Linked DNA regions of Homo sapiens. The protein of the gene in region 1 interacts with the protein of each later gene in a biochemical or structural test. Each region holds a gene or a part of one and is shown in the gene's direction. Other genes may lie near its edges.

What was found.
Region 2: the proteins of ABCC4 (region 1) and MPP1 form a complex in vitro, tested with the Homo sapiens proteins (2 studies listed by BioGRID and IntAct, with this or other methods).

What each region holds. Positions count from the first base shown.
Region 1 is NC_000013.11:95,066,434-95,075,239, reverse strand, and holds part of ABCC4 (ATP-binding cassette sub-family C member 4), read left to right. Parts: intron 1-915; coding exon 916-1,026; intron 1,027-1,935; coding exon 1,936-2,036; intron 2,037-3,386; coding exon 3,387-3,578; intron 3,579-8,806. UniProt on the Homo sapiens protein: ATP-dependent transporter of the ATP-binding cassette (ABC) family that actively extrudes physiological compounds and xenobiotics from cells.
Region 2 is NC_000023.11:154,787,367-154,796,172, reverse strand, and holds part of MPP1 (55 kDa erythrocyte membrane protein), read left to right. Parts: intron 1-3,887; coding exon 3,888-4,031; intron 4,032-4,325; coding exon 4,326-4,404; intron 4,405-5,104; coding exon 5,105-5,190; intron 5,191-6,150; coding exon 6,151-6,219; intron 6,220-8,806. UniProt on the Homo sapiens protein: Essential regulator of neutrophil polarity. Regulates neutrophil polarization by regulating AKT1 phosphorylation through a mechanism that is independent of PIK3CG activity.

The sequences.
Region 1 (8,806 bases):
GTTCCCTCTTTGTGCCCCCTGACTGGCTTGTGGGGTCTTTCTCTCACCATGCATGGCCTGTGGCTCTGTCAGCAAACGTTTTCTGCAAAAGGCCACCTAGTAAGTGTTTTAGGCATTGTGTGCCATTATTGTCTCTGTTGTGATGAATCACCTTTGCCATTGTAGCACAAAAGCAGATGTCAATACATTGGCAAATGGCTGTGACTATGTTTCAATAAAACTTTATTTACAAAAATAGGTGCTGGCTCACGTGCTGTAGTTTGCTGACCCCTTGCATCAGTGAAGATTTTTTCAATATGGAAATTTCAGAATTTCCACCAAATCTACAAAATTCAGATCCGTCATTCCAATCTTTATTTTATCTTGCTGATTAAATGGCACTTTAAAAACCACATGCTAAAAGGAAAAAAGAAGTAGCAAACAAACAAACAAAAAACCACATGCAAATCCTGTTAGTGAGGTCATTTTTATATAGCCCCTAAGCAATAGTCAGTGTGTGTGGGCCTTCTGGTAAGTATGGAAGGTGGGAGAAGTAAAATGGGAGCTGCACTCTGCTGTTGGAGAACTGGACCAGTCAACCATGTGTGTGGGTGGACTTCACATGAGATGCACTTCACATAAGTATTTCTCAGCACTGTACGAGATGTCCTTATGAGACTACTTTTCTCAGTTCTTTATTAGGATCATATTTCTGGGTTTCATATTCGCATGCATCCTCACAGAAAGCCACGGTACCATTGTGTATGTGTATCGTATATTGCCTGTATCACTTAGCTTTCTGGAATCTAAAGGTTCCTTGGGTGTGCAACTTTGGTGCCCTACTCCACGTAAAAATCTTCTGTAGCTCAACTGAGCAAAACACACTCGCACATTCATCTACTTATTCATCATGCTTATTACCGTTCTCAAATTCAGAGGCTTGGTTCTTGTTTTTGACAACGTCCCGCTGGTTTGCCGTCCGTCTGGATGCCATCTGTGCCATGTTTGTCATCATCGTTGCCTTTGGGTCCCTGATTCTGGCAAAAAGTAAGTACAGATGTGAATAACTATGTATGGTATGATTACAATTTATAGCTGTGTTTACATTTATTAAACTCTTGCCACCTTGTCTACTACTACATACTGTTTGGTCCTAATGAAGTGTATTAAATCATTTACGATGTGTCAGGTTGGGTAGGATTCAGCAGTGTGACTCATTTAAGGAGTCATTTGGGTCTTGATGGGTTTATCTTTCTTTGAATGGGTTGAGATATGCGCAGTTGAGATTCTGAACATTCCTGTTAGTGTCTGGTAGTTGTGAAGAGAAAACCAATTTATTCTGAAGCATTTTGTCCAACTTAGGGTGTTAGCCTTCCAACTACTTGAATCTATTGTTTGTAGTTGCCTGGTGCATGAGGTTGAGAAAAATTCTCAGCAGGAGAGTATTATCTTCAATGCCACATGGGTACCAGACAAGCAGGGCATGAGTTCACCACCCCAGTAACAACAGTGCATTACAATACTTAATAATGGAACAAGGAGAGTAGTATTTTAGTCTCAAAAGCATTGGCACTTACAACCTATTGCTTTGTTTTTAGTGGTTTCCAGCTGTGGTTGCATTGCACGTAGAAAGTGGAATAATGTAATGAGCTTTGAAACCATAATAATGAATGTCTGAATAATGACATTATTTCTTGCGTTTGTAATACTGTTAATTAAATCTATGTCGATCCTGTTGGAATTCATAAAATCATCTAAAAATTTTTCTAAATATACAGTGTTGTTTTCCCCATTGTATCTTGATCTCAAGCAACAAATGGTAAAAGTATAGCTATTAATGTCATTAAATGTGAATTGTTTCAACATTATGAAGGGTTCCTCTTGGTAAGTGGCAGAAGGAGCCAGGCTTAGGTTTGAAGTGAGACTGACTTTATTCCCTTCTTCCTCCTTACGTAGCTCTGGATGCCGGGCAGGTTGGTTTGGCACTGTCCTATGCCCTCACGCTCATGGGGATGTTTCAGTGGTGTGTTCGACAAAGTGCTGAAGTTGAGAATATGGTAATATTTACCTTCACGTTCTTTGCCTTTTCAATCTCCTTGCCATTAAATGGTATAAAAGCCATTCTTATGTGAAATATTAAAACTGTTATTTTTACATCTTTGGTAACAGATTTTTTTTAAGATCCTTCCTCCATCTGTTTAAAGTTAATGTAAAATAAAATATATACATCTTTTTCTGAGTCTTATGGTTGCTCTGTCAGCAGGTTTTATATTCATCACAAGCTTTTTCAGATGTAATAAATGTCTCTGTAGGAGGGAGGTTCTGAAATTCTAGAGAGGATATAAGCTAATTTCTTAGAAGCCTGTTTAATTTTGTTTCTTAACGGGTAATTCCTCATTCCTGTTAAAAGAAGACTTCAGTATTTTGAGGTTGTTTACATTTAATTAATAGGTCTCCTCCTCTCCCAGTTCTAGCGTTTACTCTCTTATGTGAAGAACAGAAGGGAGGAAGGCCTTAACTTTGCTGGTGTGCCTTCTTGGTACAGAAAGCCTCCTCTTGGAATGTGCTAGTCAAAGGGTATTAGTTTATGGTGGTATAGGAGGCTTTAATCAATGTTTTAAATATTTGCACCTTCCCCTAAAGAGAGAAAAGCAATAAACATAAAAATCTTTTCATTCTTCTCATAGAGCAAAAGTTGAGTAATTATTACAGTGAGGTTTCACGATCATCCAGTTTAACTGACCTATATCAGGTGATCCTTCTATAGCAAAAGATTCTTTTTTGGGGGGTAGGGGTGAGGGGACAGAGTTTTGCTCTTGTACCCCAGGCTGGAGTGCAATAGTGCGATCTTGGCTCACTGCAACCTCCGCCTCCCGGGTTCAAGCGATTTTCCTGCCTCAGCCTCCTGAGTAGCTGGGATTACAGGCATGCAGCACCACGCCCAGCTAATTTTTGTATTTTTAGTAGAAATGGGGTTTCACCATGTTGACCAGGCTGGTGTCAAACACCTGACCTTAGGTGATCCACCTGCCCCGGCCTCCCAAAGTGCTGGGATTATAGGCATGAGCCACCGCGCCCAGCCAGCAAAAGATTCTTGATTGGTGGCTCTAAGTATTCCTTTCCTTTACAAAATTTTCTTGCCTTTAATACAGGTGTGAGAAGTGGATAAATAAAATCTAAGCATTCATTTCTCTCATTCTTTTAACCTAATGTTGAAGGAAGTGGTTGTAAGTGAAGGTGTTACACAATGATGAACCAAATTTGTAAGTCATCAACATCCTCGTCTGTCTCCTGCTTCTCTCCTTAACCAACTATGTATGAAAGAAGAACATTTCATTGACAGTCTCTTAACATCCATAAATGACACCCTCCATTCCTAACCCCTCGGGATGTCATATTTCTTTCAGATGATCTCAGTAGAAAGGGTCATTGAATACACAGACCTTGAAAAAGAAGCACCTTGGGAATATCAGAAACGCCCACCACCAGCCTGGCCCCATGAAGGAGTGATAATCTTTGACAATGTGAACTTCATGTACAGTCCAGGTGGGCCTCTGGTACTGAAGCATCTGACAGCACTCATTAAATCACAAGAAAAGGTTTGTTTAAAGCATCTTGCCTCTTCTCAATTTCAGAAGATTTAGTGCTATGTCTGCTTGTTGTCTTCCTTGTGGATGTGTGAAGGGGATCAGTGATACGTAGGTTAACCTGTCTTGGAAACTAACCATGGAATGTGGATACCAACATTCTTCCTGCTGTGAACTGCTTTACTGTGGTTGGTGGGCCCCGGGCCTCAGGGCTGGAGCTTAACGTGACCCAGGATACTCTGTTTGATACCTAATTACTCATGGATTTTTCCAGGAAGTCAACTCTGGCTTTGTGTCACCAACACTCCTATGTCTAATTCTGTCGATTTTTACTTTGTTGCATTTCTCAAGTCCTTCTCTTCCCCTCCACTGCTGCAGCTTCTGTTCCAGCCTTTCTCCTCCTCCATCCTTTGGTCCTGTATTAGTCTGTTTTCACACTGCTGATAAAGGTATACCCAAGACTAGGCAATTTACAGAAGAAAGAGAGGTTTAATGGACTTAAAGTTCCACATGGATGGGGAGGCCTCAGACTCATGATGGCAGGCAAGGAGGAGCAAGTCACATCTTATATGGATGGCAGCAGGCAAAGAGAGTTTGTGCAGGGAAACTTCCCCTTATAAAACCATCAGATCTCATGATACTTATTCACTATCATGAGAACACCACAGGAAAGACCTGCCCCCATGATTCAATTACCTCCCACCGGGTCCCTCCCACAACATGTGGGAATTTAAGATGAGATTTGGGTGGGGACACAGCCAAACATTATCAGGCCCTTTCCTTAGTCTTTCTTGCCTTCCTTTAACCTGTGCTTTGCTTTCCCTCCCCATCCCTTTCACTGCAAACTCTTTCTTTCTGAAACAGTTTGATCACAGATCTGATCCTTACGTGGCCAGCTCCTTGCCTGGGTGAGCAGCTGCTGCAACCTTAATGAGCCCCAGGCCCACCCTGACAGGACCTGTCTGGCTCTCAGCCCCCAAGGGAAGACCCAGATCCCATGACCCCATCAGTGCTCAGAAATCAGACCCCCAAGCTGGAGGCAGTAAAGGCACCAGAGACTCACTCAAAGTCAGTGAAAGGAAAACAAGGAGGGACTTGGGAGGCTGTGTGGAGTTTTGTGAGCTGGTTTTGCAGGTATCTAAGTCTGCCAGCAATGTCCCTTTCACATGTGTCCTGGGGCCCTTGGCTAGGACTAGGACAGCCTCTTGAAGGAACTAAACCAGAACAAACAAGACAGTAGAATCTCTTCCCCTTCCCACCCCTCTCCTCACAACTCCCAATATGGACACACATCCCCTGCACTCAGGGTGCCCTCCTTCTCCCCAAGCACCTGTCTGCCTTGCTCTTAGTGTGCACCCTTTTCAGTCAGTTCAAGCATCTCTGCCTCTTTGAAACTATATTCTCCACATCATCTTATAGATTCTTTTTTCGAGACAGAGTCTTGCTCTGTCGCCCAGGCTGGAGTGCAATGTCACATTCCCGGCACACTGCAACCTCCACCTCCCAGGTTCAAGCGATTTTCCTGCTTCAACCTCCCCCGTAGCTGGGATTATAGGTGTGCACCACCATACCCAACTCATTTTTGAATTTTTAGTAGAGACCAGGTTTTGCCATGTTGGCCATGGCTGGTCTCGAACTCCTGAGCTAAAGTGATCCGCCCACCTTAACCTCCCAAATCATGCCTGGGATTACAGGCATGAGCCACCATGCCTGGCCAGATTCTTTAATGTAACATCTGTGGCCCACCCGTGTTCATAACAGCATTATTTGCAGTGAGCAGTAGGTGGAAGCAGCCCAAGTGTCCATTGACTGAGGAATGGAAAAACAAAATGTGATACGCACGCATAATGGAATATTATCCAGACTTAAAAAGAAGGTGATTCTGACACATGCTGACATGTGTGATTCTGACATGGATGAGCCCTGAGGACATTATGCTGAGTGAATTAGGCCAGACACCTAAGGACGGTGCTATAAGGTTCCACTTACATGTGGGTACCTGGAGTAGTTAGTCATGGAGACAGAAAGTAGGATGGTGGGCGGCAGGGGTAGGGGAATGGGCATTAGTGTTTAATGGGTACAGAGTTTCAGTTTTACAAGATAAATGGAGTTTTAGAGATGGATGATGGTGACGGTTGCCCAACAACATGAATGTATTTAATATAATTGAACTGAACATTTTCAAGTGATTACAATGATCAATTTTATGTTACTTTACCACAATTTGAAAAGTACATAAAGTACCTTTTGTGTATTTTACCACAATTTTTTTTTAAAGAAGATAGCACGATGGCATGATTTATAATTCTGGGTCAGCATCTCACAGTACCCTGAGCCTCTTAAAGTCAGGGAGCATTTTATATTCGTCTCTGTACCCCCAGAAAATGGCATGCTGCAGGGCACATGGTGGGTGCCTGTGAGAGTGAGGGATATGCACATACAAAGAAATCGGTAACAAAACACACACGACAGCTCCCGCAACAGCCCGTTCTCTGGGTGTCAGTGTTAGATACTTTCGGAACTGCTCTTTTCAGCTCTTCCCACCACAGACCCATTTAATGGGCTATAGTCACAATTGAATGAATGATACCCTTGTGCCATGAAAAATAAATATACAGCTTCATGCCCAGAAGATACCCAGGGAACCAGCAAAAGCTGATTCCTCATTATCTACCCAGCATCCTTGTGAGTGTGAAGAAGGTGGAGACCACTCTGCAGGCAGCATCAGCTGTAGCTCTTGCTGAAAGCAAGGTTTCTCAGATTCTGTTCCTGATGGGGCCAGGGGGATGTTTGCTTACTCTCAGACAATGTGTTATTAGGTCCTACCTGATCAACATCATTCTGTTAGTTTGGCCACGTTGTAAATTTCTCTTGTAGCCATAAAATATGAATTATCTACAAACCTCTGTTGTACACATTAGAAAACAACCTATATCCCCACATTGATATCGTTCCATCTTAAAACCCCCCCAAATCATAGGATTACCTGAGATCTGAAATGTGGGAGGGTAAATTGAATTTGAAGACTGAATTATAGCTACAACCACTTGGCTTTTGAGACAGAGTCTCGCTGTGTCATCTAGGCTGGAGTGCAGTGGCGCAATCTTGGCTCATTCTGCCTCTCAGGTTCAAGCGATTCTCCTGCCTCAGCCTCCCGAGTAGCTGCAATTACAGGCACCCGCTGCCATGCCTGGCTAATTTTTGTATATTTAGTGGATCCGGGGTTTCACCATGTTGGTCAGGCTGGTCTTGAACCCCGACCTCAAGCAATCCACCTGCCTCGACCTCCCAAAGTGCTGGGATTACAGGCATGAGCCACTGCGCTGAGCCCCACTTGGCTTTTGATTTGTGTCCTGGTTCACTCACAGTGTCACCTTTAGCTTCATTTGTGTATTCAGGCAACATCGTGGTGAGTTGGTTCCACTTTTTGTGTGTATATTCAGGGTTCGTCTCCTCCACACCTGCCTGCAGCCCCAGGATCTCAGGCAGTCCCTTTGCTGTTGGAGCTGATGGAGAGGGGCATTGTTTCCAGTGGAGATGTAGGAATGTGTCCACACAGCAGAAACAGGGCTTCATTCTCTTTCAATTGCTTCATCTGCTCAGATTTCCTGGACATTATAACAAATAGGAAAAAGTAATAGGCGCTAAGTAGGTTTCTAATTCACAGAAGAAATAGCAAGTAAAAAAGAATGAACCAAAATGAGGTATATACCACCCTAGCCTTCCTGGTTAGATTCCAAACACTGGCTGCATTTTTCATTTAGATGGTTTTGTGGTTGATTTAATCATTTTAGAGAGTACTGGGCCATTTTAAAGCATTTTTCAGCTCTAGAGGTAGATTGATTTTGGTTTGTTATTTTTTTTTCCTTGCTCAAAGCTATTACTTGGATAATACCTTTTTACAGATGTGTACTAGACCTTGCTATAGTGTGCAAAAATATTAGTTTCTTATATTCTCTCCTTTTTTACATTAATGTTTGCTGAGAAACCCCTCCTCTCACAGCCAGATTGTCCCACTTGCCCTGCCTGCTTGCTCATCTCAGGGGCTGGGATCAGCATCACCTGCCTCTGCTTGGAAACATGTTAGAAATGCAGACTGTCAGGCCCACCCCACCCTTTTGATTAAAATTGCACTGGGACAAGAACCACCCCCACTCCTGCCCCTGCATTAAAGCCGTTGCTCTCCGGTAAGCAATTTTGGATGACTAATAATCTGTGATTTCCAAGAAACTTCCTTTGACAACTTGAAGTGGAGCTCGTGGATTGCCCCAGCCCCTCTTGTGACTAAACATGAGACTCTGGATAGTCCTGGGCCAAGTGCCACCCTACAGGTTTTTTGTTTTTTTACTTTTATATTCTGCAAATTATGAATTTACATTACAATTTAATTCTGTGTGATTCCCCATTTATGCATTCATTTGCACCTTTCCGGTCATCTCTGTCTTCTATCACAGTTTTCATCCCACCATACAGCCTTCCATGAATAGCAGTCTCTGTCCTCATACCAGCTCAGCACAGCGATGTATTTGAGTTCCGTTCACTACTGATGGGATCAAAATGGGTCTCACTGCCCCACAGTACACTAGGTCTGTCTGGCCTGTTTCCCAGTTGCCCCATGTCCAACGTAGCTGCAGGCTTCTCTCCCAGCCTCTTCTGTGGGTGCCAGTTCTTCCTGTCAACAGCTGTAATCCACCCTAATACAGGTACTGTCTTGGCTCACAGTAGTCAGCTTCTTGTCCTAGCCACCTTCTTATACTCACGCATGTCCACAGCATGCATTAAATGTATGACAATAGGACCAGTATGGCAGGCCAGTGCCTTTAAAGACAACCACACTTCTCCCCGCTGTCTCCCTTCTAGCTACACCAAGGGAATACAGAGCCAGGCTATCCAAGTGATTGGGAGGCCATCGGCAGAATGGGCAAGAGGCAGGCAGACTTGGGTTTCCGTCCCATTCCATCACTTAGGGGCTCAGTCATTTCAACAGTTTAATCAATCTTACTAAGCCTCGATTTTTCTCTTTTGCAAAATGCAAGTGATAGGGCCTAGCCATTAGAGTTTTATAACTTAAACAAGATAAGAGGTGTAAAACACCTAGCTTATTGTATACCTGAACAATATGGCAATAGATTTCCCATAAATGTTTCAAGCCTGAGTTAAATGCTTAACTCTCTGGGGGATTTCTGGTTTTTTTTGCAGGACACCACAGGTGATACAAATAATACAAAGCTAATTCCAAT
Region 2 (8,806 bases), on another chromosome or scaffold:
GGTGACAGAGTGAGACTCTTTCTCAAAAAAAGAAAAAAGAAAAGAAAAGAAAAGGAAAAAAAACAAAGAGAAAGAAATCCTTCAACCCTGATGACTTTTTGTGGGTTTCTATTTCCCTCCTCCCGTTTACTCTTACTTAAACAGGGTCAAGGTTGAGGCAGGACAAGATCCACACAAGTACTTGAACCTGAGTCCCAATCACTTTGGAAAATTCTTTTACTAATTTATTTTATTAAAGTAACACAAGCACATAATACATAATTTAAAAGGTATAACTTGATACACAGTGAAAACAATTTCCTTCTCACCCCATCTTATAGCCACCCAGTTCCTCTCCCTAGAAGCAACCACTGTTTCTTATGTCTCCTTCCAGACATAGTTTATGTATTTTCATTTATTTTATTTTTTGAGACAGGGTCTCACTCTGTCACCCAGGCTAGAGTGCAGTGGTGTAATCACAACTCACTGCAGCCTTGACCTCCCGGGCTCAAGCAATCCTTCTGCCTCAGCTTCCCGAGTAGCTAGGATTACAGGTGCACGCCACCATGCCCGGCTAATTTTTTTATTTTTTGTAGAGACGAGGTTTTACTATGTTGCCTAGGCTGGTCTCGAACCCCTGACCTCAGGTGATCCTCCCACCTCAGCCTCCCAAAGTGCTGGGATTACAGGTGTGAGCCACTGAACCTGGCCAGTTTATGGATTTTTAAGCAAATATGAATATAATCATTCTTTCACTGTTTATGATGAAGCTAGTATACCCTTCATCACATTATTATTATTTTTTGCTTAACAATAAATCTTCAAGATCACCCTCAGAACCTCCTTTTCCTACCTACATGGTGTATCCCGGGTATCATAAGTCAATTTTTTAAATATAAGCCTATCTTAGACAATTTTGTTATAACAGCAATGCCATATGACTTGGTGTCATGTGAGTTTTTTGAAGTTCTAGTTGCTAGAGAAGGCAGTTTCTCTTTCTCAGTACTTCCCTCATTTGAGGTCACCTGATAGCGAATACTACTTCAAACCTCACCATGTTTTTTGTTTGTTTGTTTGTTTGTTTGTTTTTCTGAGACAGGGTCTTCCTCTGTTGCCCAGGTTGGAGTGTAGTGGTGTGATCATGGCTCACTGCTGCCTCCAACTCCTGAGCTCAAGCAATCCCCCTGCCTCAGCCTCCTGAGTAGCTGGGACCACAGGCTTGCACCACCACACTCAGCTAATTTTAAAATTTCTTACAGAGGCAGGAGTTTCACCATGTTGCCCAGGCTGGTCTCAAACTCCTGGGCTTAAGCGATCTCCCCACCTTGGCCTCCCAAAGTGCTGGGATTACAGGTGTTAGCCACTGCACCTGGCCCAAACCTCACCATCTTATCAAAGTTTCTACTTAGAAATCAGAGTCCCTTAGAAATGATGTAAGCCTCTACTCCAGACTTCCTTCTCTCTCATCTTCTAGTCCTTTTCTAGGCCTTGGGCAGGCCAGTGGACACTGCTCAGGCATACCATCTATTCCCATCTAGGGACCCTTCTCCTTCCCCACACAGTGAATGGCACACTCCTCACAGTTCTGCCTATTGGGAAGATCTTCCCTCCCTACTGTCTTTGAGGGTCACCTCTGGGTGTGACTGGAATGCAGCTATCCCCTATTTTCAGCAGACCCTTCCATAAGCCCACTTCAGGCCTATTCCTCCTCCTCGTCCTCCTCCTCCTCCTCCAGGTGGCTATATCATTTTTGATTTAATATTTTATCTGGGGTGGGCAGGGAGCATTTTCAGAGGTTTCCATAGTTTTTCCCCATTGTGATTGCTCTTACCCAGATCAGTAAGATGAGGAAAGAACAGCAAAGCAAACTGAGAAGGAGCATTTTAAGGAGAAGAGAGTGATCACCTGTGAGACTGATCCACAGGTGATCTACCATGGAGTGGTGTAGCAGTAGCCATTCATTGCCATTGATGTAGGGTATCCACTTGGATATGCTTCAGTTTATCCATTCTACTGTTGATGGACTTTTGGGCTATTTTCAGGTTTGGGCTTTTAAGAGTAGTGTTGTTCTGGAAAGGGCACACCACTACTTTCCTGGAATTCCTGCCAAAAATGCAAAATCCCAGTCTAATCTTGAAAAAACATCAGATGATAACCCCAAACTGAGAGACATCTACAAAATAACAGGTGTGTACTCTTCAAGAATGTCAAGGTCATGAAAGAAGAAAAAGAAAGGCTGAGGAAATTTTCCAAATTAAGGAAGAGTAAGGAAATGTGAAATGCATGATTGGATTCTGGTCTTAGATTGGATTCTGGGACCAAAAAGTCCTAGGTTGGATTCTGGACTGGGGAAGAAATATATAGCTATAAAGGACATTCTTGAAAGGGTTGGCAGATGACAATATTGTGTCAATGTTAAATTTTCAGTTTTGAAAATGCTCGTTCCTAACATATAGAGACATCTATGGGTAAAGGAGAATGAAGTCTTCAGATTACTCTCAAATGGTTCAAAAATTAAATTTTATAATATTTTTTAAAGAGTACTGGCTGCTCTTGGAATGGCGCCAAAAAGATGAAAGAATTTTATAGTGACACCCATATAGCCACACCTCCTAGATTCTACAGTTAACATGTTGCTGTGTTTGCTTTATCACATTTCTATCCAAAAACTGCCCATCTATCCACCTTCTTTTTCCTGGTATTTCAAAATAAGTTTCAGATATCAGAGCACTTTACCCCTGAAAGCTTCAGCATGCATATCATTGGCTCAAGTTCAGGATTTGTTTATGGTTCTTTTCATCCTGTTATTAAATTGTAAGAGTTCTTTATATGTTCTGGATACAAATCCTTTGTCAGATGTAAATATTGCAAATGTTTATTCTCAGGCTGTGTCATACCTGTCTAGTTTCTTATGTAAGATGTTTGAATTTGATGAAGTCAGTTGTTTGCTTGTATGATGATTGCTCCGTGTCTCGTCTACTAAATCTATGCTTATCTCAGTGGAGTTTTTTGATGAATAGACTTCTTACTTTTAAAGTGTTTGTCTTTTTAGTTTTCATTTTATACTCGGGACCTTTTATGACATTTATCGTGCAGACCATTTTTCCCCGCTGCACTGCAGTGTCACCTGACTATAAATGTGTGGCTCTGTTTTTGCACTCTCTGTTCCATTACATGGGTCGTTTGTCTTTCTTCTTACCACAGTGCCTTAAATTACTTTAGATTTATAATAAAGAGGCCTTGCTGCCTGGTAGAGTAACTCATTTAGCTTTGCTGTCTTTGAGATCAGGGGAAGAAGTCACAGTGGCAATGTATTATTGTTATCACCGCGGTTCGGGGCCCAGTCCTAAGTGCCTAATTCTACAGGTAGAAGTTCTTTGTAGCCTAAGGGGTGATTCATGAGAAACTGATGCTAACCTGAATTACCTTTATTGCTGTGTGACCGAGAGCATCAGGTTGTTCAAGGAAATACAAAGGAGAAGAGAACATGCCAGAAACCCTTGGAGCCTGAGGTGCCGCAGGATTCAGAATCTTTCTAATTTTGTTATATATTATGTAATACCCCAAGCAGGATCCAGGAGAGCACCATGTAAATCAAGGCACATTAATATTTCTGCAGCAACCTAGATAAACATGTCTATTTTATTTATTTTTAGAGACAGGGTCTCACTCTGTTGCCCTGGGACTGTAGCTGGGACTACAGGTGCACACCACCACACTTGGCTGACATGTCTATTAAGTTGGAGAAATAAAGCTTACAAACAGCTTCATGTCAATTCAAATAAGAATGAGGCCAAACTTATGAAATAAGTTTTCAGAGCCTCTTGAATGTTAGAATTGCAGATTGTGGACTGGCTGTGGGCCTTGCTCCTGATTTCATACGTTGCTTTGTTGTTTTGGCTTGGCAGGCTGTATCGCATCCATTGAATACTGTGACCGAGGACATGTACACCAACGGGTCTCCTGCCCCAGGTAGCCCTGCCCAGGTCAAGGGACAGGAGGTGCGGAAAGTGCGACTCATACAGTTTGAGAAGGTCACAGAAGAGCCCATGGTAATCCCCCGTCATATTGTCGCCCACCAGTTACTCTCTGCCCCATGAGTCACTGGGCCAGAAGAGTCAATGCAAGAGGCTGCTCATGGAGTTAGGGAATTGGCCAACCCCAAAATTGTCTTTTCATTCTTATCTCAAATTCCTCCTCAAAGCAGGCTTCATGCCTGTTCTAGTTGAGGACTATCCTGGGTATAAATGGAAAATATTTTCCTGAGAAATTACCGTAAGTTCTTTCTAAAATAACCTCAGAAAGAGCTTAAAATAAAGCTTATTGTGCCGTCGCCTTTATTTCAGGGAATCACGCTGAAGCTGAATGAAAAACAGTCCTGTACGGTGGCCAGAATTCTTCATGGTGGCATGATCCATAGACAAGGTACTCTGTGGGAGCTCTGGGTGGGGTTTGATTCAGGGATTAATAATTTACTCCCTGTTCAGTGGTGTGGGGCATGAAGCTTATAATCCTCCAAACTGGTAGCATTTTTGTGAGTGTGCCAAGAGACTTTTTGTGGCTTAATAACTGGCTCTGTAGAATCAGTACATGATAAGATCTCTATGTGAATTGCCCAGTGCCACCATCTCCCTATCTGAGCCTTCTTTCACACCTATTTATACCAATATTTTTCTAGTAAGTTAATATTTGAGCAATTGCCACATGCCACCCATTGCATTAGACTTGGAAAGGACAGCAGTACCACTTGGTAGCATTTTGGGGTTTGAGCTAAACAACAAAGAAACATGGAGCTTGCTGGTGAAAGAGGAGTACTGAGTTCTTTGCCTTGCTTTGTTATTCTTTTTAGTGTATACATCTGTGTCATAGTCTGGAGTCAGTAGCCACTCTAGTTCCAGGAATTTGAGGACAAGGTGTTTTATTGTGCTGTTGGACTACTGAGGCCAAGGAGGATGAGACCATCTTAAACTGTCAAGTCAAATGTTTTCAATCCTGAGTATTTGACACAATCTGTTTCATAACATGCTGTAAATCCTGGTTTCTCTTCTATGGTATCTTGAGTTACATTGACAGCTCCTGTTTGAACTTTTGTTCTTTTGTGGATTGATTTTTCATTTCATGGCAGGCTCCCTTCACGTGGGGGATGAGATCCTAGAAATCAATGGCACAAATGTGACAAATCATTCAGTGGATCAGCTGCAGAAGGCGATGGTGGGTATTTTCTATGCTAGATGAAGACCTTCCATTGTCTCCATAAGTGTTGATCCACATTGGTATCAGTGACCTCATCTCTCTGTCAAAGTATTTGTACCTTCTTGAGGGGGCTCTTTTCACTGCTAGTCTTTAATCTGTGTAAGAAATGATAATTTTCTGCCTTTATTTAGTAAAATTCTAAAGCAGGGCAAATAACCCAGAGCATCAATCTGGTGTTCCATGAAGTAATGCCAAATGAAGTAAAGCAAGCTATAACGTATATAGTAGAATCCCATTTTTGTTAAAAACAAACAATACATATGTATGCATAATGTATGTAAATATTTGTAATGCTTTTGTTGGTATGGGGAAAGGCGTGGATATATATGCGCCATAGTTCATTTTTAGGAACTTCTTCAGGACTTTTTGGGGTAAAGAATGGGGAAGAAAAGTCTTTTTTTTTTTTTTTTGAGATGGAGTTTCGCTCTGTCACCCAGGCTGGAGTACAATGGCGTGATCTCGGCTCACTGCAACCTCCGCCTCCTGGGTTCAAGCGATTCTCCTGCCTCAACCTCCCAAGTAGCTGGGATTACAGGTACCCACCATCACGCTGGCTAATTTTTGTATTTTTAGTAGAGACAGGGTTTCACCATGTTGGCCAGGCTAGTCTTGAACTCCTGACCTCAGACGATGCGCCCACCTCAGCCTCCCAAAGAGCTGGGATTACAACAGGCGTGAGCCACCGTGCCCAGCTCGGAAAAGTCTTTAGTTAGCTTTTCTTTGTTACTCTTTGCATGTCTTCATATTGTTATGCTGATTTATGGGGCACATGACACTTTTGTATTAAAGGAGGAATTGTCCTACAAAATCTCAAAATGTAAAGATGGTTGTTGGGGAAAAAAACCTGGGACTTTGAATGAATGATCACATCATTCAACTTAGTTTTCTGTACAATTTTATGTCCATTTTTTTTAATAGAAAGAAACCAAAGGAATGATCTCATTAAAAGTAATTCCCAACCAGCAAAGCCGTCTTCCTGCACTACAGGTGGGTGGCACCATTTTCTCTGTTGTCATGATGGCAGGAGTCGGGCCATGTTGTCTTATATTCTTTGAAATTTGATTATAAGGGATGTGAGTCTAACTTTAAGTTCTAAGTATCTCGCAAGTGTGTAGCTGCTTGGCTCAGGGTCCCATTATTCCCTGCCTGGTATAAAATACAGGAGCTCATTCCCCTTTCCTCAATGGAGAACATAGTGACGACAGGAGTAGAGAATGAATGAGCCTTTGCTGCTAGTGGTCAGGTAGGAAGGGAGAGGGTAATTTTATTCTACAGATGGTAAGGAATCAATACAGCTCCAAGAGGAAAATGGGTAAAGGGAATGAAGAGATCATTCACAGGAGGAAAACTACAAATGAGCATTGAACATATGAAAAAATATTTTATCTTACCGATCATCAAAGAAATGCAAATTAAAATATGCATGAGACACCAGTTTTCACCAAGCAAATTGGCAAATACTTTTTAAAATAGCAATAATAAAGCCCCGTGATTGATAGTGGCAAAGTAAAGAAAGAAACAAAAGATAGATAGAATCTGTTGAGCACTTATTCACAATTTATTGAGGGTCTACCATGTACAAAGTACTGTGCTAGAACATGGAGGTGATATAAAGAGAAATGGTTCCCAGTTCACACATAGCTCATCAGCCAGTAGAGGAATAGATTGGACAGGGCCATGGCAAGTCAATGTGGAAGAAGGAGATATTTAAAAGAATAAATCTGAAGTTTCTATTGCAGGTTACTTGTAGTGTGACGGTATAATTTTCTTAAGTAAACTTTTAAATTGCAGTTTTGGCATATATGGGCATATATTCAACAAAGGGCACAAATCACAAGTATAAAACTGGATGAATTTTCACAAACTGAGTACACCCATGCCTAAGACCGCCGCCCCCTCACCATGCGTGTTTCCTCAAGGCCCACCATAACCCTGACTTCTAACAGCAGGGATGAGTTTTGCCCCCTTTTGAAATGTATTAACGTTGAATTATACAGTATGAATTCTTTGGTGTCTTATTTTATTCGCTCAGTATTATGTTTATGGGAATCATCTATATTGCTTCATTCTCATTCATTCATTGTATGAACATGCTACAATTTAATCTATTCTGTCAGCTTTTTTGGTCTTACATTGAATGGCTGCCATTCACCAAACAGGATCTAATTCAGCAATATGAGAAGATTTACTGCCTGAAGGGCAATAAATTCACCACGTTAACAGAAAAATGGAGAAAAATCATATGATTTTTGTGCATGTGTTTTGTGGATACATCTATGCCTTTCTTTTGAGAGTAGAATTGCCAGGTTGTAGGATATATGTGTCTTCATCTTTAGGTGATATTGCCAAATAGTATTCCAAAGTTGGTGAACCATGTTACATCCCCAACTGCACAGTATGACAGTTCTGGTTGTTCTGTATTCTCACCAATACTTAGCATTGTCTGATTTGTTGGGTTTTTTTTCACCCTTTGGCCATCCTGATGGTGGTATCACATTGTGATTCTAAAAATTCTCTAATGACTAATGAGGGTAAACTCCTTTTTATATGTTTTTTTCCACTTGGATATCCTCTTTTGTAAGATACCAATTCAAGGCTTTTCTTACTGATTTGTAGCAGTTCCTCATATATTCTGGATAAGAGTCCTTTGTCATATGCATCCCAAGTATGTTCTCTTCTTCTGTGGCTTATTTTCTTCATGGTTCCTGTTAATGACTAGAAACTCTTAATTTTAATGAAATCCAATCTACCACTTTTTTCTGATTAGCACTTTTTATGTCTTGTTTTAAAAGTTTTTACTTACCACAAGGTCAACAAGATATTCTCCTGTGTTTTCTTCTAAATGCTTACTTGTTTGATTTTTCACATTTGGATCCACAACCCATCTGGGATTGATTGTTATATACATTGTAAGGTAAGAGGTCAAGATTCCAGTTTTTCCATATGGATACCAATTGAACCAGTATCATTTACTGTACACTGTCACTTTTGTCATGGTAATATTTACAGGTCTATTTTGGAACTTTTTATTCTTTTCTTTTGGACTGTTTGTTTATCCCTGTGTCAAACCTACATATCAGTTTGGATAAAAGAGGCATCTTCACAGTATCCCAGTGGAAGTGATGATAGCAGACATCTTTGTTTATTTTTCCATCTTAAAGGGAAAGCTGGCCAGGTGTGGTGGCATGCGCCTGTAATCCTAGCACTTTGGGAGGCCGAGGCGGGTGGATTGCTTGAGCCCAGGAGTTCGAGACCAACCTGGGTAACATAGCAAGACCCATGTCCTTTGAAAAAGGCAGGGAAAGCTTTTAATCTTTCACTGAGAAGTATGACGTTGGATGTAGGGTTTCTGTAGGTATTCTTTCTCACAGTAAAGAACCTCCCTTCTATTCCAAGTTTGCTAAGAATTTTAATCTTGAATGGGTTTTGAATGTTATCACAGGCTTTTTCTGCATCTATTGAGGGGATCATATGATCTTTTTCCATTTTTATGTTAACGTGGTGAATTTATTGCCCTTCAGGTAGTAAACCTTCTTATATTGCTGAACTAGATCCTGTTTGGTTGTGATTTATT